3 separate regions of the Homo sapiens genome follow, and regions 2 and 3 are each linked to region 1. Evidence: fine-mapped expression QTL. A gene starts in region 1. Each other region holds a variant in brackets. All regions are shown on one strand. Distances are between the middles of the regions.

Region 1 (5,000 bases):
AACATGGTGAAACCCCATCTCTACTAAAAATACAAAAATTAGCTGGGCGTGGTGGCCCATGCCTATAGTCCCAGCTACTCGGTGGGAGAATCGCTTGAACCCCGAGGCAGAGATAGCAGTGAGCTGAGGTCTCGTCACTGTATTCCAGCCTGGGCGACAGAGTGAGACCCTGTCTCAAAAAAAGAAAAAAAAAGTGACAATGGGTACAAACTTTCTTTAGGGGATGATGAAATGTCCTAAAAAAGATAACAACTGTACACATTTATGGGGTAACTTTTTATTTATTTATTTATTATTTATTTATTTATTTTGAGACAGTCTCACTCTGTCGCCCAGGCTAGAATGCAGTGGTGCCATCTTAACTCACTGCAACCTCCGCCTCCCGGGTTCAAGCGATTCTCCTGTCTCAGCCTCCTGAGTAGCTAGGATTACAGGCATGCACCACCACACCTGGCTAATTTTTGTATTTTTAGTAGAGATGGGGGTTTCACCATGTTGGGACAGGCTGGTCTTGAACTCTTGACCTCTGGTGATCCACCTGCCTCGGCCTCCCAAAGTCCTAGGATTACAGGCGTGAGCCACTTCACCTGGCCCAATTTTAATTTTTGTTACAAAAAGCAGACATATTTTAAGAAACATGGAACAAATTCTTATTTTTTTAGAAAAGTAAAAATCCTGTTAGAAACTATTGCCTTATTGTAGCACCTTCCAGGGCTTCCAACTTGGATCTCAGAAGCTCAGCAAAGACCAGTTGATGCTGCTTCTTCGGAAATATAACGGTAGCTGAATTAAACCACAGAAGAAAAAGCAACCCTGTAAGCATGCTTCTTGAGGAGTCCCATAGTGGCAGTATCTTATAATGGTTAAAAGCAGAGACTTAGGAATCAGACTGACCTGTGTTTGGCTGCTATTTTCAGCGCTTATTATGAGTGACTTTAGGCAAGTTACTTTAACTGTCTAAGCCTCAATTACTTAATCTGTAGATTGGCAGTAACATCTATCTCATAAGGTTGTGAAGTAAATTAGATGATATAATCTAAGTGCTCCCCACAAAAAAACTAAGTGCTCCTACATAGTAAGTACTGCACATTACATATCCACTATTACGAGCAAAACAGATCACAAATTTTTTTTTAAATGCAGTTCTATTTTTAACTATCAGTATGCCAGAAAAGCTGTCTCTCATTTTTTAAAGGCACTTTCCTTGTTTACCTCTGGTAGGTTTTCAGGGTCAAATTTCCAATATTATTTTCTTTTTAAAATGTATTGCTATTATTATTATTTTGAGACGGAGTCTCGCCCTGTCGCCCAGGCTGGAGTGCAGTGGTGCGATCTCGGCTCACCACAACCTCCACCTCCCGGGTTCAAGCAATTCTCCTGCCGCAGCCTCCTGAGTGGCTGGGATTACAGGCGCGCGCCACCATGCCTAGCTAATTTTTGTATTTTTAGTAGAGACGGGGGTTTCACCATGTTGGTCAGGCTGGTCTTGAACTCCTGACCTTGTGATCCACCCACCTTGGCCTCCCAAAGTGCTGGGATTACAGGCGTGAGCCACCGTGCCCGACCAAAAAATTATTATTGTTATTATTCATTATTTATATTTGAGATGGGGTCTTGATCTGTTGCCCAGGCTGGAGTGAATGCAGTGGCCCAATCTCGGTTCACTGCAACCTCTGCCTCCCTGGCTCAAGCAATCCCCCCGCCTCAGCCTCCCGAGTGGCTAGCACTATAGGTGCGTGCCACCACACCTGGCTAATTAAAAAAAATTTTTTTTTTATTTTTAATAGAGTGGAGGGGGGCGGTTCTTGCTATGTTGCTCTAGCTGGTCTCAAACTCCTGAACTCAAGCAATCGTCCCACCTCTACCTCCTGAAGTGCTGGGATTACAGGTGTGAGCCACCGCACCTGGCCTCCAATATTTTATGTTTCTCTCTCCCTGACTTCCCAAATTAATTATGTCCACAGTTTGAAAATATTTGTTCCTTACATCTCCATTCACTCATTCCTCGATTCATCCACCCAATGAGCATTGTTAGTGTCTAATTTCTGCAATACACTGGTGTTACAAAGCTTAAAAATTAATTAGACACAGGTCTTGCTTTAAATAAGTTAAAAGTCTACTTTAGCAAATAAGAAAGACAGGACACAGAGTGAAAAAAAATTTTTTTTGAGACGGAGTCTCGCTTTGTTGCCCAGGCTGGAGTGCAGTGGTGCGATCTCGGCTCCCTGCAAGCTCCGCCTCCTGGGTTCATGCCATTCTCCTGCCTCAGCCTCTCGAGTAGCTGGGACTACAGGCGTCCGCCACCACGCCCGGCTAATTTTTTGAATTTTTTAGTAGAGACGGGGTTTCACCGTGTTAGCCAGGATGGTCTCGATCTCCTGACCTCGTGATCCGCCCGCCTTGGCCTCCCAAAGTGCTGGGATTACAGGCGTGAGCCACCGCGCCCGGCCCACAGAGTTAAATTTGAACCTCAGATACCCAAGGAATAATTTATTGCTATAAGTATGTTCCATTCCATGGCACCCTGTGGAGGGGAAAGACTATAGTGTAATATAGTGCTAGAAAAGGACTTACAGAGTGCTGCGAAATTTCCCCTGGAATGTGTCTACATCCTGGTAAGACTGATCTGGGAGCAACTGCATCCCCAGAGATTGTTGTCCTAGGGGAACAAACGCACACCTTGTTTCCAGATTGAAGGGCTAACTCTACACCAGCCCGAAATTTATCAGCCGCGTTGCCACCCATAGCCGCTAGATGCCGCAACAGACGTATTTACTGAAACCATAGACAAACAGGCGACTTGGCCGCCCAGAGAGGCTTTATCCGTGACTCCTTGATCTTCTTCCTGCGTGGAGAGCCTTCGCGGGTGAGGCTTAACGCGCAGGAGGTCTCACGAGAGTGGAAGCAACTCTCGCGAATTTTAAAATTTATCTTTTTGCCTAGCGACTGACAACAGGCTGGTTGCTTGGCGTGGAATCCTAAAGTGGCCTGGCTTTGAGACTGGAGTGAGACCCCAGCCCTAGGCTGGGGTTCTTTCCATTATAGAGGAGACGGATTCAGAAGGGCTACAGGTAATTAGTACTCATCCCAGCAAAAAGGGAACTGTCTTTCTAGAGAGGCTTAAGAGGACTCCCCTTTACCCCATTCCCGGTTACCTCTTCCAATCTCCGTGGTAACTGTTCCTTCGTCACCTCACCACCAACCGTCCTGCTTCCTTTATTCCCCCAAGAAACTTAGGTGGGATCCTATCTGCAAGATAAGGGTGAAAGTGGAGGTGATGATTTTGGGATTATCGGATGGGACTGAGAGACTGGAGTTTCCCCTCTCTTCGGGGACCCTCCCACCCTACCCCGCCTCAGCCCACCCCACCCCACCCCACCCCACCCCACCCCACCCCACCCCAGAGGTGACTCCAGAGACAGAACTCTTTCTAGAACCTCTACAGCCTTCCCTGAGAAACCTCAACAGCCTTGGCCATCTACATACAAATAGTGTTCTGCCCTTGCGCGTGGTCGTACAGCTTTGGGAAGCTGCAGAAGTTGGCTCTCTTTCCCTCCACGATTCCCTGGTTCCTCAGCCAGCCTGCCAGCAGTTCCTAAATAAGGGCTGCAACAGAATGACTTAACTGCTTGACCGAGGGCCAGGAAGCCTGAAGGAAAGTTTGGATGGGGTGATGGTTTTGTGAAAAACTGGTTTCTTGAGTAAGGAAGAGGAGCCAATGCTGGTTTGGAATATACCTCCTGGCAGAGTGCTTTATGTCTCATGATAGGAGCTATGAATTATGTCTCCCTTTGCTTAGACCAAGGTTGTTGAAAACCAGACATATGATGAGCGTCTAGAGATTAACGACTCCGAAGAGGTTGCAAGTATTTATACTCCAACCCCAAGACACCAAGGTAAGAGAGGAAAGAAGAGAAATGCTACTGAAAGAGCAGGATGGATTCACGGTTGTCTTCAAGAAGTTCTTATTTTATAATAGCAAATGTTGACTTTCAGCGTCAATTTACTTCACTTGCCATTGTTTGTTTTCTGACTAGTTAAGGGGGAGAAATCATAGCCTTCCAAATTACAGGATCTTCCCCCAATCCAACCCTGTCACCATTTACTTCATGTTACTGCTTTGCTCACTGTCTGCCAGGAATTCACTGTTCTTTTTCTTTTTCTTTTCTTTTTTTTTAACTTATGTTTTTCCTAGCTTTGAAGATGCTTCATAACCTCCCCTTAGCCTGCAACCCCAACCAAAATCACAGTGGAATGTTTTTAAAGGACTGAACACTATTTATTTATTCAACAAACTTTTTTTTCTTAATTTTATAGAGACGAGGCCTCGCTATGTTACCAAGGCTGATCTTGAACTCCTAGCCTCAAGCAGTCCTTCCGCTTTGGCCTCCCAAAGTGCTGGGATTATAGGTGTGAGCCATCGTGTCTGGCCAACAAGCATTTTAAAATGCCTACTGTGTGCCAGCCTTATGCCTGGCACTTGGGTAAATAGTGTTAAATGACACAATGTCCCTGCCATCCCGATGCTGGTAATCATGGGAGGCAGATGACAAATGAGTAAACACATGCCAAATGTGGTAAGTGCACACTGATGGAGGCAGATTGTTTGCTGTTAAGGAGAATAACAGTGAGGAAGGAGACCCACTTTTTTTTTTTTTTTTTTTTTTTTTTTGAGACAGAGTCTCACTCTATCACACAGGCTGGAGTGCAGTGGTGCGATCTTGGCTCACTGCAATCTCCGCCTCCTGGGTTCAAGTGATTCTCCTTCCTCAGCCTCCCGAGTAGCTGGGATTACCACACCCAGCTAATTTTAGTATTTTTAGTAGAGACGGGGTTTCACCATGTTGGCCAGGCTGGTCTCGAACTCCTGACCCCAACTGATCCACCTGCCTCGGCCTCCCAAAGTGCTGGGATTACAGGTATGAGCCACCGTACCTGGCCAGAAACCCACTTTTGATAGGGTGGTCAGGGAAGACCTAAAGGGGTGACATGTAAGACTG
Region 2 (11,236 bases), 810 kb before region 1:
CAGCTCACTCGCTGCTCTTAAAGCTCCCCGGTCAGTTTGCTAAAGGGGGTTAGGGGCGGGGGTTGGGCAACAATTAAGCGGAAGGGGAGATTTTCCACCAATCCCAAACCAGAAAGAGGCAGCTTTGAAATTCTCACCAGTCCCAAACCAGAAGCAGGCACGCGGTGCTCCGGAGAGAGCAACTTCTCAACAGTCAAGGGAAGCCCTAGCCAACCCATTCTAGCCCTTCCCTGAAGAGTGAACATCCTACCTCCTGACCTGGCTGCCTTTAGAATGGGACTGAGCTGGAGGTAGTGGTAGGGGCTGCTCACCTCCCCTGGAATGGGCATGAGAACATCCCCCAGATGGACCCCCGTAAAGCAGAGGAAAGGAGAGCTGATTGGGCTAAGGTCGAGGCAGGCCCCCTCCTTTGATGCTGTAGATGCATGTCAGACTGGAGTCAGAATGAGGACTGGAATGAGGGCGTCCTCTGAAGTGCATCATTAGGACCTGGGCTGAGTCAGTAGCCTGTGCTAAGACAGGGTGGAGGCACCAGGCTGGGTACTCCCAGTCCTCGGGGAGAGCCATCGAGAAACGTCCTGGGAGCAGACAAGTGCACCAAGGCCAGAGAGGCTAAGAACCCCGTTCCTTCCTCTTGTGACCCTGCCCAGCCCGGCTCTGTGGCCCTGGAATCCTGAGCCCTCCCACAGGTAGAGTGGAACCACCCCAGAGGGGCCAAGCATTCTCCTGGTGGCCTGGGGGAAGCTGCACTTGCCGTATTTTTCTAGGCAAAGGGGGAAGGAGCCCAGATGGGCTTGGCCTTTCTCTGCTTGGTGGACTGGACGTCTAGGAAGATGGCAAGCCTTGTTTGCCCTTCCCAGTTATGGGACATGGTCAGTTCAGAAAACCAAGGGACTGTTCTCTGGCATTAGAAAGGCACACTTCCGGCCGGGAGCAGTGGCTCAAAGTGCAGTAATCCCAGCACTTTGGGAGGCCAAGGCGGGCGGATCACAAGGTCAGGAAATCGAGACCATCCTGGCTAACACGGTGAAACCCCATCTCTACTAAAATTACAAAAAAATTAGCCGGGCGTGCTGGCGGGAGCCTGTAGTCCCAGCTACTCGGGAGGCTGAGGCAGGAGAATGGCGTGAACCCAGGATGCGGAGCTTGCAGTGAGCCAAGATCGCGCCACTGCACTGCAGCCTGGGCGACGGAGACTCCGTCTCAAAAAAAAAAAAAAAAAAAGAGAAAGGAACACTTCCCCAGGAGTAACCCTCCTTTTCTCCCTAGGAAGGTTCACCTGGTAAGGCGCTATTATTAATAATACCACTAATTATAATAAGAAGTGGAAGTATTCAATATAATCATCAATGTTTATTGAACTCTATGGGCCATGAAATTTACAAATATTATTTTATTTAATCCTCACAACTGAGATAGACCACTATTATTACTATTAGTCCCGTTTTGCAGATTAAATAGCTAAGGTTCAGAGAACTTAAGTGACTTATCCACTATTTCAGAGCCAATAAGGGAAAGAACTAGCCTCCAATCCCAGGCCTAGAAGTCCATTAGAAAAGAATATTGGACTGAAACCTGAGTACTAGTCCCCTTTCTGCTTCTCGCTATCTGCACATGCCCTTGAGCAAGCTGCTTTCTTTCTCTAGGTCTACTCTATCTCAAAATTAAGAGTGGGGCTAACTGTATGGCTTCTTCCTGTTCTCTAATTCTGTGACTGACTGCTCTGGAAAATCCACTTTCTCCATATTTTTGTCTCAAGTTCCACCCCCACCCCTCTGTGCTCTTTTCAATGCTCTTTCCTCTTGAATCTCCCGATTGTTCCCCTTCAAAATGCCCCCCTTCCAAGAGTCCTCACAGACCTCCTTGGCTGGCACTGGCCCGAAAGGGCAGCCCCTCAAGGTGAGCACGCCACTGCCCCTTTAATTCTCCTGGGGCTTGGAATGCAAGTGAGTTGCACTCGCCATCTCTGCGAGTCTGCGAGGTCAGATAAGATACTATATATATCGGAGTCAGTAACCTGAGCTCCGGATTACCCAGCCCAGAGTCAGGCTCCAGCTTCTGGGCTTTCCACTGCATTCCCTGCCCTGCTGGGGAAGGAGAAGCCCCCAGCTCCCATCCAGTGCCCCTGGACACAGGTCAGTAGCTGCCCCTTTGGTATCTGAGCTTCTCTGGGACTCTACCTAGAGGAAAGACATCAGTGAATCTGGGAGAGCATGTGAGAGGCCACCCCATTGGGCCCGGTGGGTGTCAGGGGCAAGACCAAAGGCTCCTCCGGAGGCTGAGAACAGAGGAAAGATGACGCCCTAGAGGAGAAGGAAGGAGACCGGGGCTCTCCCCTTGGGAGGGGGCACCAGGAGAGTACCTGGGCAGAGGTGCTTGGAAAAGAGAATTTAAGGATCCCAATACTACCTGGAGGCCCATTTCTTTGCCTTGTCTTGGAAGTGTATAGATGCCCACCCACTCACAACCCCAAATCAAGGAGCACCCTATAGAAACTGCCCTGGGCCCATCCACTTCTTCTCCACCAGTCAGGATTCTTGCCTTAATCTCCAGTCTCTTTATCTTACCTCCTCCCCTCCCCCAGCTCTTGGGTAACTACTGGGAGCACAAGAAAGAGAAATGGACCCAAATTCCCTTGGATGACCCCCTGCCAGGGGAGGCAAGAGGATTAGGCTGGTGGATCAGCGGGTGCTAGCCCCTGATAGACAAAGCCTAGTGACAGGCTGGAGGGGAGGAGGCCAGCCCAGGCCCTGGGGCCTGAGAGGAGTAGGCGGAGTTCAAGGACTGTTTGAGCATAAATATGCCCCCGCCCCCCCATCCCCTACTCTACCCATGTCCTCTACACCTGCCAGGATTCCCTCATCCCATCCTCCAGGACCAGACACTTGTGCCCAGATAGTGCAGCAGGTGACCCAAGCAGCTGGGAGGCAGGGTCAGAGTGCAGATGGAAGGATACAGGGCCCCCTCTCACCCACCTTGTCCTTCAAGGTCAGCACATTCTGATGCTGTTAGCAAGTGGCTTTAGGAAGCTCTGAGGTCACCACTGTGGGGGCTCCCAACCACCTGGCGGGACTGGCTGGGACTCCCCACTCACCTTTTCCGGGCACCTGAGTAGGAGGGAAGAGACTTAACCCTGTTTAGGCGTGCTTCTGAAACTCAGCTAGAGGCTCTCTATCCAGGCCCCAGTAGCAAAGCAGGCTTTCACCCCAGAAAGCCAAGCAGATCTGGGCAGAGAGAAGCCATGAAGGTTACTGGGATGTGGGGCATCACCCATCCCCTGCCCCCAGGGCCAGGAGCGCCTGGAATTCCTGGGGAGCAAGTCCCTCCCCTGGCTGGGCAGGTTAGGGAGCCCTTCATGTGAGCAACAGGAAATGACAGTGGCTGAAGCAAAGGGGTTGGCTGCCCCACGGGGACAGGGTTCATTTTAACCCCTGACTCACCCAGCATGGGTACCTTGAGGAGTGGGCCAAGCTGCAGCCAGGGTAGGAGGCTAGGGACTTGCTCATAACCAGGCCAGGGACCCAAGGCCCCGAGCTGGGGTAGATGCTGGTGCCAGGGGACATGCAGGGGCTTGGCACAGTGGGTGAAATGGAGGCTTCCTGGACCATCTCTCGGCCTATCAGTATTGTTCTGGGGCTCGAGTTGCACCTGGCTTCACTTTCATTCACCTGCAGTGGAAAATCCAGAGGGCTGCTCCTGCCAGAGTCTGTACACCGCATGCTGTTACTGGATGACGGACACCTGGATCCTGTGGTGGTCCTTCCCTCAAACCCCACCCACAGGTCCCAGTCCTGACCCGTCCCATGGAGAGCCAGGGAAGAGTGAAGCAGGGGTCTGGGCTTCAGGCCAGATATAGCAGACAGAGCACGAGTCCAGCCCAGCTCTGCCACTGCTCCCAGTGTGACTTTGGGAAATCCACATCACTCCCAGCATCGCCAACTTCCTCATCTGCAAATGGACGTGATAACAGCACCTACCGCTTAAAGGAGCAGGGAGGATTCAGTGAGTTAATGCACTGTGTCCCAAGCCTTAGTGCAGTTTTAAGCTTTAATAACTTCAGAAATATGAATGCTAAAAACTTCATTTGAAAGTTTCCATATTTAAATTTCTTGTATATTTATTTTTTAATTGTGAAAATGTTTTTAAATTTTAATTTAAATAATTTAATCTGTCCAAAGAGGTGTGTAAGTTGGAGACATTTATGTCTGAAAGAATCCCAGCTTAAACCTGCACTAAGACTTTTTGGGGTGCTCTGTGTATGAAGCACATCTAGAAGAATGCGTCACATGGCAAGGGCCGATGAGAGCTGATGTGAGACTGCAGAGAAGATGGACTCAGAAGCTGCATGTGAAGTACTCAACATGCCTGGGGCCTGGTTCAGAGGTGATCAGCACCAGCCAGCTGGGGTGACAGCTGCTTGGCTCAGATGCCCTGACAGGAAGCCCAGTGCCTCTGTGCAGAGGAACTCTGCTGCACCTCCCAGGAGAGGGAAACTGAGCAAAGCAACAGGAATCTCTGACAGAGAAGGAAGGGTCAGGACACCTCAGTGAAGATGGCCAGGAGGAGGAGCTGGGCAGGGGACTGCCCCCATTGTCCAAGGTGGCGGACACCTGGAGAGGCGCTGCCTGGAGCTGCATGCCTGTACTTGCCAGCTCTGGGTAAACAGTGAAAGGAGCTGGGCAGCAGGGGCCCCCCGCACTGGGCAGGGAGGGGTATGGGGGATCCCAGCCAATTGGCTTGCCTCCCACTGCCCCATGAAAGGGCCATTCAGTTCAGGCTGTTCCTGTGGCAACAGGGAGACTCGCAGCCACGTGAGTGCCCGTCCTGTCCCTGTCTTGCGCAGCGAGACTCCGGCCAGGGCCCCAGCCCGCTCTCCTGCCCATAGTGCATTCTGTGGCCTCCAGGGACAGCTGTGCAGGTAATGCCAAGGGGCACCAACCCAGGCTGTGCTTTCACCTGGAAGGTGCTAGGACCTTTGAGAGTGAAACTGGGGGTTGCGGGAGGGGAGAGACATGTGGAAGGCCCCGGCCCCAGTAGGAACCCTCTCCGCAGGCATGGGAACTGTAGCTAGAAGTCAGAGCCGAGAGGCAGCTTCCATGGAGTATTAGTGATGGCATGACTCCCAGGGCTGCTAGGAGGAGGC[G/A]GAGGGGTCTGGCAATCACCTGCCAGATGGGAGGGAGAGTGGGGATTTGGGAGCCCTCCTGGGAATCTGTGGGCCAGAGATGTGGCCCCACCTCCGGCTCCAAAGCCTTTCAGAGCTGTCTGTCCCTGTCCTCTGGACCTCGTTTGGCCCCAGCACTTCTGCGTCATCAGCAGGGTCAAGGGATGTCACGGGCTTGGGGCGCTGCCCGAAGAATACCAATTCCCTGAGAGCCTTACTGTGGGGGAGGGAGAGGGAGAGCTGTGGGGAGGAGCCATGAGCTCATACCCTTGTTGGGGGGATTGTATCTGATTGGCTGCCTGGTGTCCCAGAGCCCAGCTCCTGAGACCTGGAGTCTCTTTGACTTTGCATTATTGATGGAGTTCTCCAAAGCAAAATAGGGCAGGACTGGGCCCCCACCCCGACCCTGTGCCTCTGTCTGTCTCTCCCGCTATGGTTTCCCTCTAACGCTGTGTGACATCATCCCCCAGTTACCTTTTCCTAGAAAGGGGTGAAAGTTGTGCTGGGCACAGTGGGCAAAGGAGTGTACATGAAGGGCCAGGGGCCCCCTGGGCCAGGTGGCAAAAGGCTAGACAGTAAGATGGACCAGGCCTTTCTGATGTCAGCCTGGACTGAAAACTGCTGGAGTTCTCAGGCAGGGTCAAGGAATGCTGTTCCGGGCCTATATGGAAGCCACCTGCTCATCTCTCACCCCTGTACCTACCCCAAAGCCTTGTGTGGACTGGGATTCTAGAGCTTTCTGCCAAGCCCTCGCATTTGGGGTTTGGCACCAGCTCCTCTCTGCCCTAATGGGCTGGGTTGCCAAGCCAGTGTCTGCTGAGTGGCCAGATGTCTGCCCACTGCCTGTTTCTCTCGCTGGGGGCTGCAGGGGGAGGCCTGGCATCCCAAGCTGAGGCCAGAGGCTGGCCAGGCTGGGAGACAGCCAGCCCTGATATTATCACAGACCTTCAGAGGGCGGAGCCATGCTGCCTCGCAGTAGCTGGGGGAGGAGATGGTAGCCACTGTCATTGTGGAGCCCTTCACGTGTTGTTATCTCATTTATTCCTCACAACAGCCCTGTGAGGTAGGAATTATGAGGATGATGGTTTTACTCATTTACAGATGAGGAAGTTGGGGCTCAGAGAGGTTACGTGACTAGTGCAAAATCACCCAGCTAGTCCATCACAGGGCAAGTCCCACAACTCTGAGAGTCCTGGATGGCTCTGCTCCATCCCCCTAGAAAGCCCCCCAAGAGCCCCTGATGCCCTCGGGGAAAGGCGTCTGACCCTACTTGCTCCTCTGCCACTCCAGCTCCATTGGATACAGGCTGCACGTTTACGGTGATGGAAGGCCTCTGGGGGTCCCCAACTGACCCTAAATCTGATGCGGGGGAGGTAACTCCAGGTTAAGTAGAAAGAACACTGGCCAGGATTTTAAAGACCTGGATTCCAGTCCTGGCTCTGCTGGTGTGTGGCCGGGGGCAAATAAGCATCACTTTTCCCATCTGTATAACAGATAGATTAAAATTCATGATCCTCTGGGGCTCTCAAAGCTCCACATTCAGCAGTGTCTGTGTTCCTTCACTAGACCCTCCCCAGCTGCAGGACTGGAGCAGGGAAGGACTGGGAATGCCACCTGCAGTGCAAGATTTGGGACTGTAGGGGGCCCCCTTTGCACAAGCATCGCCAGGACCAATTTGAGATCTGTGTTTGTAGAGGAAGCCTGTGTTGGTAGAGGAACTCTTAGGAGGCCACAGGGCCCTAACTCCACTTAGAACAGAAGCTTAGCTCAGTGAAGTGAGTGTCCCTCACTGTGGGACCATGCAGCAGGTGCTGGTGTCTGGGGAAAGGGTCTGGAGACCACGTTCTGGCCCCTCATTGTTGCATGCTCACTCACGGCCTCCCCTGCCCACCCACACCCCATTACTTCCTCCCCTGAGCCTCCTTGGCCTCACAGGGGATCTGACCAAATGATCTTCAGGTCATTCCAGCACAGACAGTCTAGGATTCCAAAAAGACACCTGCTCATCACATAAGTCAGAAGGGACAGATGTGGTCTTAACTCCTGAAATATCCAGCATTCTCAACCCAGGGGTCAGTGGCATTCCCCCAGCTCAAGAGTTTCTGCAGATGCTGAGGCAATGGGATTTGACCTGGAAGACTGCACGGCTTGGTGGGCTGTGGAGGTCAGATAGCCCCTGCTTGCGTGTTTGAGTCTTTGAATGGCCAGGATGCGCTGACTTCCTGTGTGGCATATAAAAGCCACCTCATCCCTCGCACTCTCACCGAGGTGTGAACACACAGGTGCAAGCAAGCTCCTGTGCACACCTGCGTGCATGTGTGCTTCTCAGCAGCCAGCCTGCCTCTTGTGGAAATGGACTGGGAGCTCTGAGGTTCTGGCCCAGCTGAGGATGGGGAGCAGGTCTGTGGGAGCCCGACACCTGGCAGGGCCCTCTGACAACTACACTCCTTGTCTTTCAGCCCATGAGGCTCCCAGTCCCCACTGAGTGCCACCCTGAAGGATGTCCCAGCTCTCCTCCACCCTGAAGCGCTACACAGAATCGGCCCGCTACACAGATGCCCACTATGCCAAGTCGGGCTATGGTGCCTACACCCCGTCCTCCTATGGGGCCAATCTGGCTGCCTCCTTACTGGAGAAGGAGAAACTTGGTTTCAAGCCGGTCCCCACCAGCAGCTTCCTCACCCGTCCCCGTACCTATGGCCCCTCCTCCCTCCTGGACTATGACCGGGGCCGCCCCCTGCTGAGACCCGACATCACTGGGGGTGGTAAGCGGGCAGAGAGCCAGACCCGGGGTACTGAGCGGCCTTTAGGCAGTGGCCTCAGCGGGGGCAGCGGATTCCCTTATGGAGTGACCAACAACTGCCTCAGCTACCTGCCCATCAATGCCTATGACCAGGGGGTGACCCTAACCCAGAAGCTGGACAGCCAATCAGACCTGGCCCGGGATTTCTCCAGCCTCCGGACCTCAGATAGCTACCGGATAGACCCCAGGAACCTGGGCCGCAGCCCCATGCTGGCCCGGACGCGCAAGGAGCTCTGCACCCTGCAGGGGCTCTACCAGACAGCCAGCTGCCCTGAATACCTGGTCGACTACCTGGAGAACTATGGTCGCAAGGGCAGTGCATCTCAGGTGCCCTCCCAGGCCCCTCCCTCACGAGTCCCTGAAATCATCAGCCCAACCTACCGACCCATTGGCCGCTACACGCTGTGGGAGACGGGAAAGGGTCAGGCCCCTGGGCCCAGCCGCTCCAGCTCCCCGGGAAGAGACGGCATGGTGAGTTTACCCTTGGGGACCGGGGATAGGCTGGGGAGGCAGCCACTGATGGAGAACAGCCAGGCTGAGGGCTCGACTCCCAACCTGACTGATGACTGACAGGCTGCTCCTGGTGGAGACAAACAAGAGAAGTCATCCTGGCACATCTGGTGCCCCTGGGGCTCCGTGCCGAGGGGAGGGGCCTTCCCACTCTGCCTAGAAAGCCCACTCAGGGCCCGCGCACTCGAGGATAGTCCAGTAGTGTTCTCAGGAATGCTCTGCTGCGCCCAATGAACCACTCTTCTCACCTTCTCCTTTTCTATGTGACATGCCAGTGTCTCCTGCAGGCCTTGCCCCAACCTGGGCTGGATGCGGGGGGGCCCAGACCACCAGTGCACCCTGTGGCAGGAGGGCCTCCTTGCTGTGGTTGCATCTCCCCTCTTGTGCAGGCTTTATTCCCTAGCCCCAAGGCCTGGCTTTACATTTGGACATAAGACATCAGGGGAAGAGGGACTCTCCTCTGAGTGACACTGGCATACTCAGGACCAGGGTATCAGACAGCAATGCTTATCATCTGGCTTTGGAGAAAGTAGGGGAGAAATTTTTATCTAGGGCTTGAGACAATCCAATACCTCTATTCCAGCCCTGCCTCAGCTGGAATGAGGGAAGAGGCTCTGCTGGAGACTGACCAAGGGCTGGCATGGGCTCGCTCGCCAACTAATGCCCGCACACGCCTCTCTTGGGGCACTGACGACATCTGCCTTTTCTGTAGTTATTAGTGTGCCCATTAGGTGGCAAGCTCTCAGAGGAGGAAAAAGAAATCCTATCTCTAGATCCCCTGCCACGTGCCTCCCACAATGGGGGCTGACCTGCTGATTGCAGGGATGAATGGATGGATGGATGTGTGGGTGGTGGGTGGGTGGATACACGGGTAGATGGCGGGTGGACAGATGGACAGGCAAGCATATGGGCAGAAGGGCTGGATGCTGTGTCTCCTCCATTACCTTATGTACCCCTCCCTACTCCTAGGACAAATACATTTTGAAAACAACAGCATGCCACAGCAAGAAATACTGCTTGGAGGGCTGATCCAGACAAATGCAGCAGGGGTTCAGGAATAGGGGCAGGACCTTGAAGCTTGCATAACTAAAGGTCTTGAGAGAGCAACTTTGATAATATGACTTAGGGAGTCTTGGCTTTGTTGTGCCATCTGTGAAGTGGCACAGGAGATAGAAACGCTGGTGCCTCCCAGAACATTCAGAACTTGACAAGGCAGGGCTGGATCCACTGTAGAAAGGAGTGGAGAAGAGAGATGTGTCACAACAGAGCTGGCATGGTGGGGAAGTATCAGCTCTCAGGGTGCTGCGTGCTGGGCTTGGAGTGGAGCAGGACTCACTTGGACTCGGCTGGTGCTGTTCAACCCCAGGGCAATTAGAATATGGCTCTCCTCGGAGGGGCTCGGGTCCTAGAAGCCTCTGCGGGGCTCCCTCCCCTTGCTCAGAAGAGAAGGGTTGTTTCATGGTCAGCAGTGCTCCTTAAAGTGGGGTCTGCAGACTGCCTGTGTCAGAGTCACTGCAGGGCTTAACGATTCATCCAAACCCACTGAAGCAAACTCTCTCGGGATGGGGCCTGGGAAGCTGCTCTTTCCACAAGCTCTTTGGGTGATCTCTAGGCATGCTGAGATGGAAAACCTCAGCGCAGACTAAACTACAGACCCACCCTCAGCCCCAATCATGACAGCAGTATTCCCCTTTACTGGGGATCAGATTCCACTGGGAATCTGCCTCCTCCCCACACAGGCATGGCCCAACCCTCCTGGGAGTCTGCCGCCCTCCAACTCTCCAGAAGGGACAACCCTGGCTCCTCCCCCCGGCTCCAGGGCCAAGGTGAAGGGAATTTTGAGAGAGGACCTCAAAGAAGTGGCAGATTGCCCTGGGACAAACTCAGCCACCCTCATCCAGAAGCAACTCATAAGGCACTTTAGCCGGGAATGCCCTGCAGTTGAGCTAGTGTTTCATTCTGAGCTCATGCCCCAGAAGATACTGCCAACCAGCAGAGGCCTCTCCAGGGTCAATAGTACAAGACCTTTATTTAACCTCACCCTGATCTCTCCACCCCTTATCGTCATTTCCTGGAGCAGAGTGCGTCTTGCTGAGGTGAGAACAACCCTGCTCGTGCGGCCTGGACCACTTCTTTCTAAAACTGGGTCCAGTTTCTTTCTAGATCTCCATCTGGGGATCTTGCCTTCTGAGGCACTCATTTGTGGTGCTCAGCTTACTAGCAGCGTGACCTCAGATAGGTCCCTTAGCTTCTGAACTTGTGTCCTCCTCTGTAAGATGAGTGATCATAGTTCCCACTTCACAGATTACTTGAGGAATGAAAAGATAATGTATGTGAAAGTGCCTGGCATGTTGCTTAGTAAATGTTAGTCCTCGTTGTTGTACCCTTCTGGTGCTTTGGCAGGCAAGAGATGTGTGCGAGCAACAGTCCCTGCCTTCAGTGCCTTCACAATTCACTTAGGGAAATAAGTTTGTTTTGTTTTGTTTTTTTGGAGATGGAGTCTCGCTCTGTCTCACTCAGGTTGGAGTGCAGTGGTGCGATCTCGGCTCACTACAACCTCCACCTCCCAGGTTCAAGTGATTCTCCTGTGTCAGCCTCCCAAGTAGCTAGGACTACAGGCGTGTACCACCACACCAGGCTAATTTTGTATTTTTAGTAGAGACGGGGTTTCACCATGTTGGCCAGGCTGGTCTTGAACTGACCTCAGGTGATCCACCCGCCTCGGCCTCCCAAAGCGCTGAGATTACAGGTGTGAGCCACCA
Region 3 (11,236 bases), 160 kb before region 1:
ACAAGCGGCAGTGCAGCAGTAGATTTATGTACTATACAAGCAGTCTCTCTGCTTCCAGGGAAGCCCCCACAAAAAATCCCCACAGGGGTATATGGCCCACTGCCTGAGGGGACTGTAGGACTAATCTTGGGAAGATCAAGTCTAAATCTAAAAGGAGTTCAAATTCATACTGGTGTGGTTGATTCAGACTATAAAGGCGAAATTCAATTGGTTATTAGCTCTTCAATTCCTTGGAGTGCCAGTCCAGGAGACAGGATTGCTCGATTATTACTCCTGCCATATATTAAGGTTGGAAATAGTGAAATAAAAAGAACAGGAGGGTTTGGAAGCACTGATCTGACAGGAAAGGCTGCATATTGGGCAAGTCAGGTCTCAAAGAACAGACCTGTGTGTAAGGCCATTATTCAAGGAAAACAGTTTGAAGGGTTGGTAGACACTGGAGCAGATGTCTCTATCATTGCTTTAAATCAGTGGCCAAAAAATTGGCCTAAACAAAAGGCTGTTACAGGATTTGTCGGCATAGGCACAGCCTCAGAAGTGTATCAAAGTACTGAGATTTTACATTGCTTAGGGCCAGATAATCAAGAAAGTACTGTTCAGCCCATGATTACTTCAATTCCTCTTAATCTGTGGGGTCGAGATTTATTACAACAATGGGGTGTGGAAATCACCATGCCCTCTCCATTATATAGCCCCAGGAGTCAAAAAATCATGACCAAGATGGGATATATACCAGGAAAGGGACTAGGGAAAAATGAAGATGGCATTAAAGTTCCAGTTGAGGCTAAAATAAATCAAGAAAGAGAAGGAATAGGGTATCCTTGTTAGGGGCGGCCACTGTAGAGCCTCCTAAACACATACCATTAACTTGGAAAACAGAAAAACCGGTGTGGGTAAATCAGTGGCCGCTACCAAAACAAAAACTGGAGGCTTTACATTTATTAGCAAATGAACAGTTAGAAAAGGGACATATTGAGCCTTCATTCTCGTCTTGGAATTCTCCTGTGTTTGTAATTCAGAAGAAATCCGGCAAATGGCATATGTTAACTGACTTGAGGGCCGTAAACGCTGTAATTCAACCCATGGGGCCTCTCCAACCTGGGTCACCCTCTCTGGCCATGATCCCAAAAGATTGGCCTTTAATTATAATTGATCAAAAGGATTGCTTTTTTACCATCCCTCTGGTGGAGCAGGATTGCGAAAAATTTGCCTTTACTATACCAGCCATAAATAATAAAGAACCAGCCACCAGGTTTCAGTGGAAAGTGTTACTTCAGGGAATGCTTAATAGTCCAACTATTTGTCAGACTTTTGTAGGTCAAGCTCTTCAACCAGTTAGAGACAAGTTTTCAGACGGCTATATTATTCATTATTTTGATGATATTTTATGTGCTGCAGAAACGAGAGATAAATTAATTGACTGTTATACATTTCTGCAAGCCGAGGTTGCCAATGCAGGACTGGCAATAGCATCTGATAAGATCCAAACCTCTACTCCTTTTCATTATTTAGGGATGCAGATAGAAAAATTAAGCCACAAAAAATAGAAATAAGAAAGACACATTAAAAACACTAAATGATTTTCAAAAATTGCTGGGAGATATTAATTGGATTCGGCCAACTCTAGGCATTCCTACTTATGCCATGTCAAATTTGTTCTCTATCTTAAGAGGAGACTCAGACTTAAATAGTAAAAGAATGTTAACCCCAGAGGCAACAAAAGAAATTAAATTAGTGGAAGAAAAAATTCAGTCAGCGCAAATAAATAGAATAGATCCCTTAGCCCCATTCCAACTTTTGATTTTTGCCACTGCACATTCTCCAACAGGCATCATTGTTCAAAATACTGATCTTGTGGAGTGGTCATTCCTTCCTCACGGTACAGTTAAGACTTTTACATTGTACTTGGATCAAATAGCTACATTAATTGGTCAGACAAGATTATGAATAATAAAATTATGTGGAAATGACCCAGACAAAATAGTTGTCCCTTTAACAAAGGAACAAGTTAGACAAGCCTTTATCAATTCTGGTGCATGGCAGATTGGTCTTGCTAATTTTGTGGGAATTATTGACAATCGTTACCCAAAAACAAAAATCTTCCAGTTCTTAAAATTGACTACTTGGATTCTACCTAAAATTAGCAGACGTGAACCTTTAGAAAATGCTCTAACAGTATTTACTGATGGTTCCAGCAATGGAAAAGTGGCTTACACAGGGCCGAAAGAACGAGTAATCAAAACTCCATATCAATCGGCTCAAAGAGCAGAGTTGGTTGCAGTCATTACAGTGTTACAAGATTTTGACCAACCTATCTATATTATATCAGATTCTGCATATGTAGTACAGGCTACAAGGGATGTTGAGACAGCTCTAATTAAATATAGCATGGATGATCAGTTAAACCAGCTATTCAATTTATTACAACAAACTGTAAGAAAAAGAAATTTCCCATTTTATATTACTCATATTCAAGCACACACTAATTTACCAGGGCCTTTGACTAAAGCAAATGAACAAGCTGACTTACTGGTATCATCTGCATTCATAAAAGCACAAGAACTTCATGCTTTGACTCATGCAAATGCAGCAGGATTAAAAAACAAATTTGATGTCACATGGAAACAGGCAAAAGATATTGTACAACATTGCACCCAGTGTCAGGTCTTACACCTGCCCACTCAAGAGGCAGGAGTTAATCCCAGAGGTCTGTGTCCTAATGCGTTATGGCAAATGGATGTCACGCATGTTCCTTCATTTGGAAGATTATCATATGTTCATGTAACAGTTGATACTTTTCACATTTCATATGGGCAGCTTGCCAAACAGGAGAAAGTACTTCCCATGTTAAAAAACATTTATTGTCTTGTTTTGCTGTCATGGGAGTTCCAGAAAAAATCAAAACTGACAATGGACCAGGATATTGTAGTAAAGCTTTCCAAAAATTCTTAAGTCAGTGGAAAATTTCACATACAACAGGAATTCCTTATAATTCCCAAGGACAGGCCATAGTTGAAAGAACTAATAGAACACTCAAAACTCAATTAGTTAAACAAAAAGAAGGGGGAGACAGTAAGGAGTGTACCACTCCTCAGATGCAACTTAATCTAGCACTCTATACTTTAAATTTTTTTAAACATTTATAGAAATCAGACTACTACTTCTGCAGAACAACATCTTACTGGTAAAAAGAACAGCCCACATGAAGGAAAACTAATTTGGTGGAAAGATAATAAAAATAAGACATGGGAAATAGGGAAGGTGATAACGTGGGGGAGAGGTTTGCTTGTGTTTCACCAGGAGAAAATCAGCTTCCTGTTTGGATACCCACTAGACATTTGAAGTTCTACAATGAACCCATCGGAGATGCAAAGAAAAGGGCCTCCACAGAGATGGTAACACCAGTCACATGGATGGATAATCCTATAGAAGTATATGTTAATGATAGTGTACGGGTACCTGGCCCCACAGACGATCGCTGCCCTATCAAACCTGAGGAAGAAGGGATAATGATAAATATTTCCACTGGGTATCGTTATCCTATTTGCCTAGGGAGAGCACCAGGATGTTTAATACATGCAGTCCAAAATTGGTTGGTAGAAGTACCTACTGTCAGTCCTAACGGTAGATTCACTTATCACATGGTAAGCGGGATGTCACTCAGGCCACGAGTAAATTATTTACAGGACTTTTCTTATCAAAGATCATTAAAATTTAGACCTAAAGGAAAACCTTGCCCCAAGGAAATTCCCAAAGAATCAAAAAATACAGAAGTTTTAGTTTGGGAAGAATGTGTGGCCAATAGTGCGGTGATATTACAAAACAATGAATTCGGAACTATTATAGATTGGGCACCTCGAGGTCAATTCGATCACAATTGCTCAGGACAAACTCAGTTGTGTCCAAGTGCACAAGTGAGTCCAGCTGTTGATAGCGACTTAACAGAAAGTCTAGACAAACATAAGCATAAAAAATTACAGTCTTTGTACCCTTGGGAATGGGGAGAAAAAGGAATCTCTACCCCAAGACCAAAAATAATAAGTCCTGTTTCTGGTCCTGAACATCCAGAATTATGGAGGCTTATTGTGGCCTCACACCACATTAGAATTTGGTCTGGAAATCAAACTTCAGAAACAAGAGATCGTAAGCCATTTTATACTATCGACCTAAATTCCAGTCTAACGGTTCCTTTACAGAGTTGCGTAAAGCCCCCTTATATGCTAGTTGTAGGAAATATAGTTATTAAACCAGACTCCCAAACTATAACCTGTGAAAATTGTAGATTGTTTACTTGCATTGATTCAACTTTTAATTGGCAGCAGCGTATTCTGCTGGTGAGAGCAAGAGAAGGCGTGTGGATCCCTGTGTCCATGGACAGACCGTGGGAGGCCTCGCCATCCATCCATATTTTGACTGAAGTATTAAAAGGCATTTTAAATAGATCCAAAAGATTCATTTTTACTTTAATTGCAGTGATTATGGGATTAATTGCAGTCACAGCTACGGCTGCTGTGGCAGGAGTTGCATTGCACTCTTCTGTTCAGTCGGTAAACTTTGTTAATGATTGGCAAAAGAATTCTGCAAGATTGTGGAATTCACAATCTAGTATTGATCAAAAATTGGCAAATCAAATTAATCATCTTAGACAAACTCATTTGGATAGGAGACAGACTCATGAGCTTAGAACGTCGTTTCCAGTTACAGTGTGACTGCAATACGTCAGACTTTTGTATTACACCCCAAATTTATAATGAGTCTGAGCATCACTGGGACATGGTTAGACACCATCTACAGGGAAGAGAAGATAATCTCACTTTAGACATTTCCAAATTAAAAGAAAAAATTTTTGAAGCATCAAAAGCCCATTTAAATTTGGTGCCAGGAACTGAGGCAATTGCAGGAGTTGCTGATGGCCTCGCAAATCTTAACCCTGTCACTTGGGTTAAGACCATCGGAAGTACTACAATTATAAATCTCATATTAATCCTTGTGTGCCTGTTTTGTCTGTTGTTAGTCTGCAGGTGTACCCAACAGCTCCGAAGAGACAGCGACCATCGAGAATGGGCCATGATGACGATGGCGGTTTTGTCGAAAAGAAAAGGGGGAAATGTGGGGAAAAGCAAGAGAGATCAGATTGTTACTGTGTCTGTATAGAAAGAAGTAGACATAGGAGACTCCATTTTGTTCTGTACTAAGAAAAATTCTTCTGCCTTGAGATGCTGTTAATCTATGACCTTACCCCCAACCCCGTGCTCTCTGAAACATGTGCTGTGTCAAACTCAGGGTTAAATGGATTAAGGGTTGTGCAAGATGTGCTTTGTTAAACAAATGCTTGAAGGCAGCATGCTCTTTAAGAGTCATCACCACTCCCTAATCTCAAGTACCCAGGGACACAAACACTGCGGAAGGCCGCAGGGACCTCTGCCTAGGAAAGCCAGGTATTGTCCAAGGTTTCTCCCCATGTGATAGTCTGAAATATGGCCTCGTGGGAAGGGAAAGACCTGACCGTCCCCCAGCCCGACACCCATAAAGGGTCTGTGTGAGGAGGATTAGTATAAGAGGAAGGCATGCCTCTTGCAGTTGAGACAAGAGGAAGGCGTCTGTCTCCTGCCCGTCCCTGGACAATGGAATGTCTCGGTATAAAACCCGATTGTACGTTCCATCTACTGAGATAGGGAAAAACGCCTTAGGGCTGGAGGTGGGACATGCGGGCAGCAATACTGCTTTGTAAAGCATTGAGATGTTTATGTGTATGCATATCTAAGAGCACAGCACTTAATCCTTTACCTCGTCTATGATGCAAAGACCTTTGTTCACGTGTTTGTCTGCTGACCCTCTCCCCACTATTGTCTTGTGACCCTGACACATCCCCCTCTCGGAGAAACACCCACGAATGATCAATAAATACTAAGGGAACTCAGAGGCTGGCGGGATCCTCCATATGCTGAACGCTGGTTCCCCGGGTCCCCTTATTTCTTTCTCTATACTTTGTCTCTGTGTCTTTTTCTTTTCCAAGTCTCTCGTTCCACCTTA[C/T]GAGAAACACCCACAGGTGTGGAGGGGCAACCCACCCCTTCAAGCCTCTGCTCCTCCACCCTATAATTCTTTTATCACCTCCCCTCCACACACCCGTCCGGCTTACAGTTTCATTCCGTGACTAGCCCTCCCCCACCTGCCCAGCAATTTACTCTTAAAAAGGTGGCTGGAGCTAAAGGCATAGTCAAGGTTAATGCTCCTTTTTCTTTATCCCAAATCAGATAGCGTTTAGGCTCTTTTTCATCAAATATAAAAAACCCAGCCCAGTTCATGGCTCGTTCGGCAGCAACCCTGAGATGCTTTACAGCCCTAGACCTAAAAGGTCAAAAGGCTGTATTATTCTCAATATACATTTTATTACTCAATCTGCTCCCGACATTAAATAAAACTCCAAAAATTAAATTCCAGCCCTCAAACCCCACAACAGGATTTAATTAACCTCACCTTCAAGGTGTACAATAATAGAAAAAAGTCGCAATTCCTTGCCTTTACTGTGAGACAAACCCCAGCCACATCTCCAGCCCACAAGAACTTCCAAACGCCTAAACCGCAGTGGCCAGGCGTTCCTCCAGAACCTCCTCCCCCAGGAACTTGCTACAAGTGCCAGAAATCTGACCACCAGGCCGAGGAATGCCTGCAGCCCAGGATTCCTCCTAAGCCGTGTCCCATCTGCGCGGGACCCCACTGGAAATCGGACTGTTCAACTCACCTGGCAGCCACTCCCAGAACCCCTGGAATTCTGGCCCAAGGCTCTCTGACTGACTCCTTCTCGGCTTAGCAGCTGAAGACTGATGCTGCCTGATCGCCTTGGAAGCCCCGTAGACCATCGCGGATGCCGAGCTTTAAGTAATCTCACAGTGGAGGGTAAGTCCTTCCCCTTCTTAGTCAATACGGAGGCTACCCACTCCACATTACCTACTTTTCAAAGGCCTGTTTCCCTTGCCTCCATAACTGCTGTGCGTATTGACAGCCAGACTTCTAAACCTCTTAAAACTCCCCAACCCTGCTGCCAATTTAGACAATACTCTTTTGAGCACTCCTTTTAGTTATCCCCACCTGCCCAGTTCCCTTATTAGGCTGAGACACTTTAACTAAATGATCTGCTTCCCTGACTATTCCTGGATTACAGCTGCATCTTATTGCTGCCCTTCTTCCCAATCCAAAGCCTCCTTTGCGTCCTCCTCTTGTATTCCCCCACCTTAACCCACAAGTATAAGATACCTCTACTCCCTCCTTGGTGACCAATCATGCACCCCTTACCATCTCATTAAAACCTAATCACCCTCACACGGCTCAATGCCAATATCCCATCCCACAGCATGCTTTGAAAGGATTAAAGCCTGTTATCACTCGCCTGCTACAGCATGGCCTTCTAAAGCCTATAAACTCTCCTTACAATTCCCCCATTTTACCTGTCCTAAAACCAGACAAGCCTTACAAGTTAGTTCAGGATCTATGCCTTATCAACCAAATTGTTTTGCCTATCCACCCCATGGTGCTAAACCCATATACTCTCCTATCCTCAATACCTCTCTCCACAATCCATTACTCTGTACTGGATCTCAAACGTGCTTTCTTTACTATTCCTTTGCACCCGTCATCCCAGCCTCTCTTCGCTTCACTTGGACTGACTCTGACACCCATCAGGCTCAGCAAATTACCTGGGCTGTACTGCCACAAGGCTTCACAGACAGCCCCCATTACTTCAGTCAAGCCCAAATTTCATCCTCATCTGTTACCTATCTCGGCATAATTCTCATAAAAACACACGTGCTCTCCCTGTTAATCATGTCTGATTAATCTCCCAAACCTCAATCCCTTACAAAACAACAACTCCTTTCCTTCCTAGGCATGGTTAGTGCGGTCAGAATTCTTACACAAGAGCCAGGACCGCACCCTGTAGCCTTTCTGTGCAAACAACTTGACCTTACTGTTTTAGCCTAGCCCTCATGTCTCCGTGCAGCGGCTGCTGCCGCCCTAATACTTTTAGAGGCCCTCAAAATCACAAACTATGCTCAACTTACTCTCTACATTTCTCATAACTTCCAAAATCTATTTTCTTCCTCATACCTGACGCATATACTTTCTGCTCCCTGGCTCCTTCAGCTGTACTCACTCGTTGTTAAGTCCCACAATTACCATTGTTCCTGGCCCGGACTTCAATCCGGCCTCCCACATTATTCCTGATACCACACCTGACCCCCATGACTGTATCTCTCTGATCCACCTGACATTCACCCAATTTCCCCATATTTCCTTCTTTCCTGTTCCTCACCCTGATCACGCTTGATTTATTGATGGTGGTTTCCACCAGGCCTAATCGCCACACACCAGCAAAGGCAGGTTATGCTATAGTACAAGCCACTAGCCGGCCTCTTAGAACCTCCCATTTCCTTTCCATCGTGGAAATCTATCCTCAAGGAAATAACTTCTCAGTGTTCCATCTGCTATTCTACTATCCCTCAGGGATTATTCAGGCCCCCTCCCTTCCCTACACATCAAGCTCGAGGATTTGCCCCCACCCAGGACTGGCAAATTAGCTTTACTCAACATGCCCCGAGTCAGATAACTAAAATACCTCTTAGTCTAGGTAGACACTTTCACTGAATAGGTACAGACCTTTCCTACAGGGTCTGAGAAGGCCACCGCAGTCATTTCTTCCCTTCTGTCAGACATAATTCCTCAGTTTAGTCTTCCCACCTCTATACAGTCTGTTAACAGACCAGCCTTTATTAGTCAAATCAGCCAAGCAGGTTTTCAGGCTCTTAGTATTCAGTGAAACCTTTATATCCCTTACTGTCCTGTGTCTTCAGGAAAAGTAGAACGGACTAAAGGTCTTTTAAAAACACACCTCACCAAGCTCAGCCACCAACTTAAAAAGGACTGGACAATACTTTTACCACTTTCCCTTCTCAGAAGTCAGACATGTCCTCAGAATGCTACAAGGTACAGCCCATTTGAGCTCCTGTATAGATGCTCCTTTTTATTAGGCCCCAGTCTCATTCCAGACATCAGACCAACTTCCACCGTGCCCCCAAAAAAACTTGTCATCCCTACTATCTTCTGTCTAGTCATACTCCTATTCACCGTTCTCAACTACTCATACATGCTCTGCTCTTGTTTACACTGCCGGTTTACACTGTTTCTCTAAGCCATCACAGCTGATATCTCCTGGTGCTATCCCCAAACTGCCACTCTTACCTCTTGAAGTAAATAAATAATCTTTGCTGGCAGGACTATGCTGAATCTCCTTAGGCACTCTCTAATCAGATGTCCTGAGTCGTCCCAATTCTTAGACCTTTTATACCTGTTTTTCTCCTTCTCTTATTCCATTTAGTTTTTCAATTCATACAAAACTGTATCCAGGCCATCACCAATAATTCTAAATGACAAATGTTTCTTCTAACAACCCCACAATATCACCCCTTACCACAAAATCTTCCTTCAGCTTAATCTCTCCCACTCTAGGTTCCCACGCCACCCCTAATCCCGCTCGAAGCAGCCCTGAGAAACATCCCCCATTATCTCTCCATACCATCCCCCAAAATTTTCGCCATCCCAACACTTTACCACTATTTCATTTTATTTTTCTTATTAATATAAGAAGACAGGAATGTCAGCCCTCTGGGCCCAAGCTAAGCCATCATATCCCCTGTGACCTGCACGTACACATCCAGATGGCTGGTTGCTGCCTTAACTGATGACAATCCACCACAAAAGAAGTGAAAATGGCCCGTTCCTGCCTTAACTGATGACATTGTCTTGTGAAATTCCTTCTCCTGGCTCATCCTGGCTCAAAAGCTCCCCCACTGAGCACCTTGTGACCCCCACTCCTGCCTGCCAGAGAACAACCCCCTTTGACTGTAATTTTCCTTTATCTACCCAAATCTTATAAAATGGCCCCACCCCTATCTCTCTTCACTGACTCTCTTTTTGGACTCAGCCTGCCTGCACCCAAGTGATTAAAAGCTTTATTGCTCACACAAAGCCTGTTTGGTGGTCTCTTTACACGGACGTGCATGAAAGTGGCCGGGCACAGTGGCTCAGGCCTGTAATCCCAGCACTTTGGGAGGCCGAGGCAGCTGGATCACAAAGTCAGGAGTTTGAGACTAGCCTGACCAACATGGTGAAACCCTGTCTCTACTAAAAATACAAAAATTAGCCGAGTGTGGTGGCATGCACCTGTAATCCCAGCTACTCAGGAAGCTGAGGCAGGAGAATCGCTTGAACCTGGGAGGCGGAGGTTGCAGTGAGCCAAGATCACGCTATTGCACTCCAGCCTGGGTGACAGAGAGAGACGCCATCTCAAAAAATAAAAATAAAAAGTAAAGGGGAAAAAGCAGGCAGGAGGGGAAAGGGAACATTAAAAAAAAAAAAAAGAGGGAGGATATGGTCACTTTGTTTTGCGGCTTTGTTTAAGCTCACTGAATCCACATGTTGCACAGGAAAAAAAGGGAGTAGAAGGCCGGGCACGGTGGCTCACGCCTGTAATCCCAGCACTTTGGGAGGCCGAGGTGGGAGGATCACCTGAGGTCAGGAGTTTGAGACCAGCCTGGCCAACAAGGCGAAACCCCATCTCTAATAAAAATACAAAAATTAGCCAGGCGTGGTGATGCACGCCTGTAATCCCAGCTACTGGGGAGGCTGAGGCAGGAGAATCGCTTGAACCCGGGAGGCAGAAGTTGCAGTGAGCCAAGATCACACCACTGCACTCCAGCCTGGGTGACAGAACAAGACTCCGTCTCAAAAAAAGAAAAAAAAAAAAGGGGGTGGGGGCGGGGGGTAAAAGGAACAGTCAATTCTGTATTCATCTCACATGGTAAATTGGCACTTTACATAAGACAAAATAAACAGAGTACAGGAAACAGTCAAATATGCATTTATCTTGGAGTGGGTGGGGACGATGATTTCTAGTCTCCTCTTGTCCCTTACCTACCCTCATCCCCCGCCTGCAAAGATAAGCTGTTAATTTACATTGTCAGGGTGAAGGAGGCCACCTGTGGCCTTCCATCTGCAGCTATCAGTTTAGAAACAAAAGGAAAGGCACTTGTTCCCGCCCCCTCCCGTGACTCAGCTTCCACACTTAACTTTTCCTTTTTGGCATAGTGAATTTGGGCTCCCAAGATTTTATTCTTCCTTTCACACTTTCTGGCTTATCAAGTTGCTCATTTACTTCTCAAGGTCAGCTAGGTGCCTGGAATTT

Which allele goes with the higher level. Positions count from the first base shown, and alleles are read on the strand shown. Sizes are in standard deviations (SD) of each study's normalised expression.
In carriers of allele A in region 2, the expression in T cells of the gene that starts at base 2,930 in region 1 tends to be lower than with G alone (moderate effect, 0.43 SD a copy in GENCORD).
For the expression in lymphoblastoid cells after a statin of the gene that starts at base 2,930 in region 1, C is the high allele of the variant in region 3 and T is the other (moderate effect, 0.64 SD a copy in CAP).

What was found. PIP is the estimated chance that this variant, and not a neighbour inherited with it, causes the effect. A credible set is the group of variants that fine-mapping cannot tell apart.
Region 2: its variant is the best candidate, but not a certain one, in a credible set for the expression of IFT46 in T cells (GENCORD, PIP 0.85).
Region 3: its variant is the best candidate, but not a certain one, in a credible set for the expression of IFT46 in lymphoblastoid cells after a statin (CAP, PIP 0.64).

What each region holds. Positions count from the first base shown.
Region 1 is chr11:118,563,861-118,568,860 of GRCh38, reverse strand. IFT46 (intraflagellar transport 46) reads left to right here and starts at 2,930. Exons shown (of 12, transcript NM_001168618.2): 1 at 2,930-3,071; 2 at 3,800-3,896. It overlaps LOC124902764 (a long non-coding RNA gene), which reads right to left and starts at 3,800. Exons shown (of 4, transcript XR_007062907.1): 1 at 3,487-3,800; 2 at 3,156-3,249; 3 at 2,575-2,659; 4 at 262-783. RefSeq lists an enhancer at 2,658-2,887.
Region 2 is chr11:119,369,906-119,381,141 of GRCh38, reverse strand. USP2 (ubiquitin specific peptidase 2) reads left to right here. Exons shown (of 13, transcript NM_004205.5): 2 at 7,621-8,435. The coding sequence starts at 7,662. Among named protein-coding and RNA genes, the nearest start is that of USP2, 6.2 kb to the left of the region's middle. RefSeq lists enhancers at 1-374, 3,332-3,920, 4,237-4,815, 7,682-8,182. The variant G/A (reference allele first, on the strand shown) is at 5,144.
Region 3 is chr11:118,715,854-118,727,089 of GRCh38, reverse strand. It overlaps LOC124902766 (endogenous retrovirus group K member 7 Env polyprotein-like), which reads left to right. Exons shown (of 3, transcript XR_007062912.1): 1 at 1-3,395; 2 at 5,015-6,897. Among named protein-coding and RNA genes, the nearest start is that of TREH, 42 kb to the right of the region's middle. RefSeq lists enhancers at 188-689, 5,200-5,940, 6,681-7,422, 7,461-8,266, 9,075-9,880 and 2 more. The variant C/T (reference allele first, on the strand shown) is at 6,034.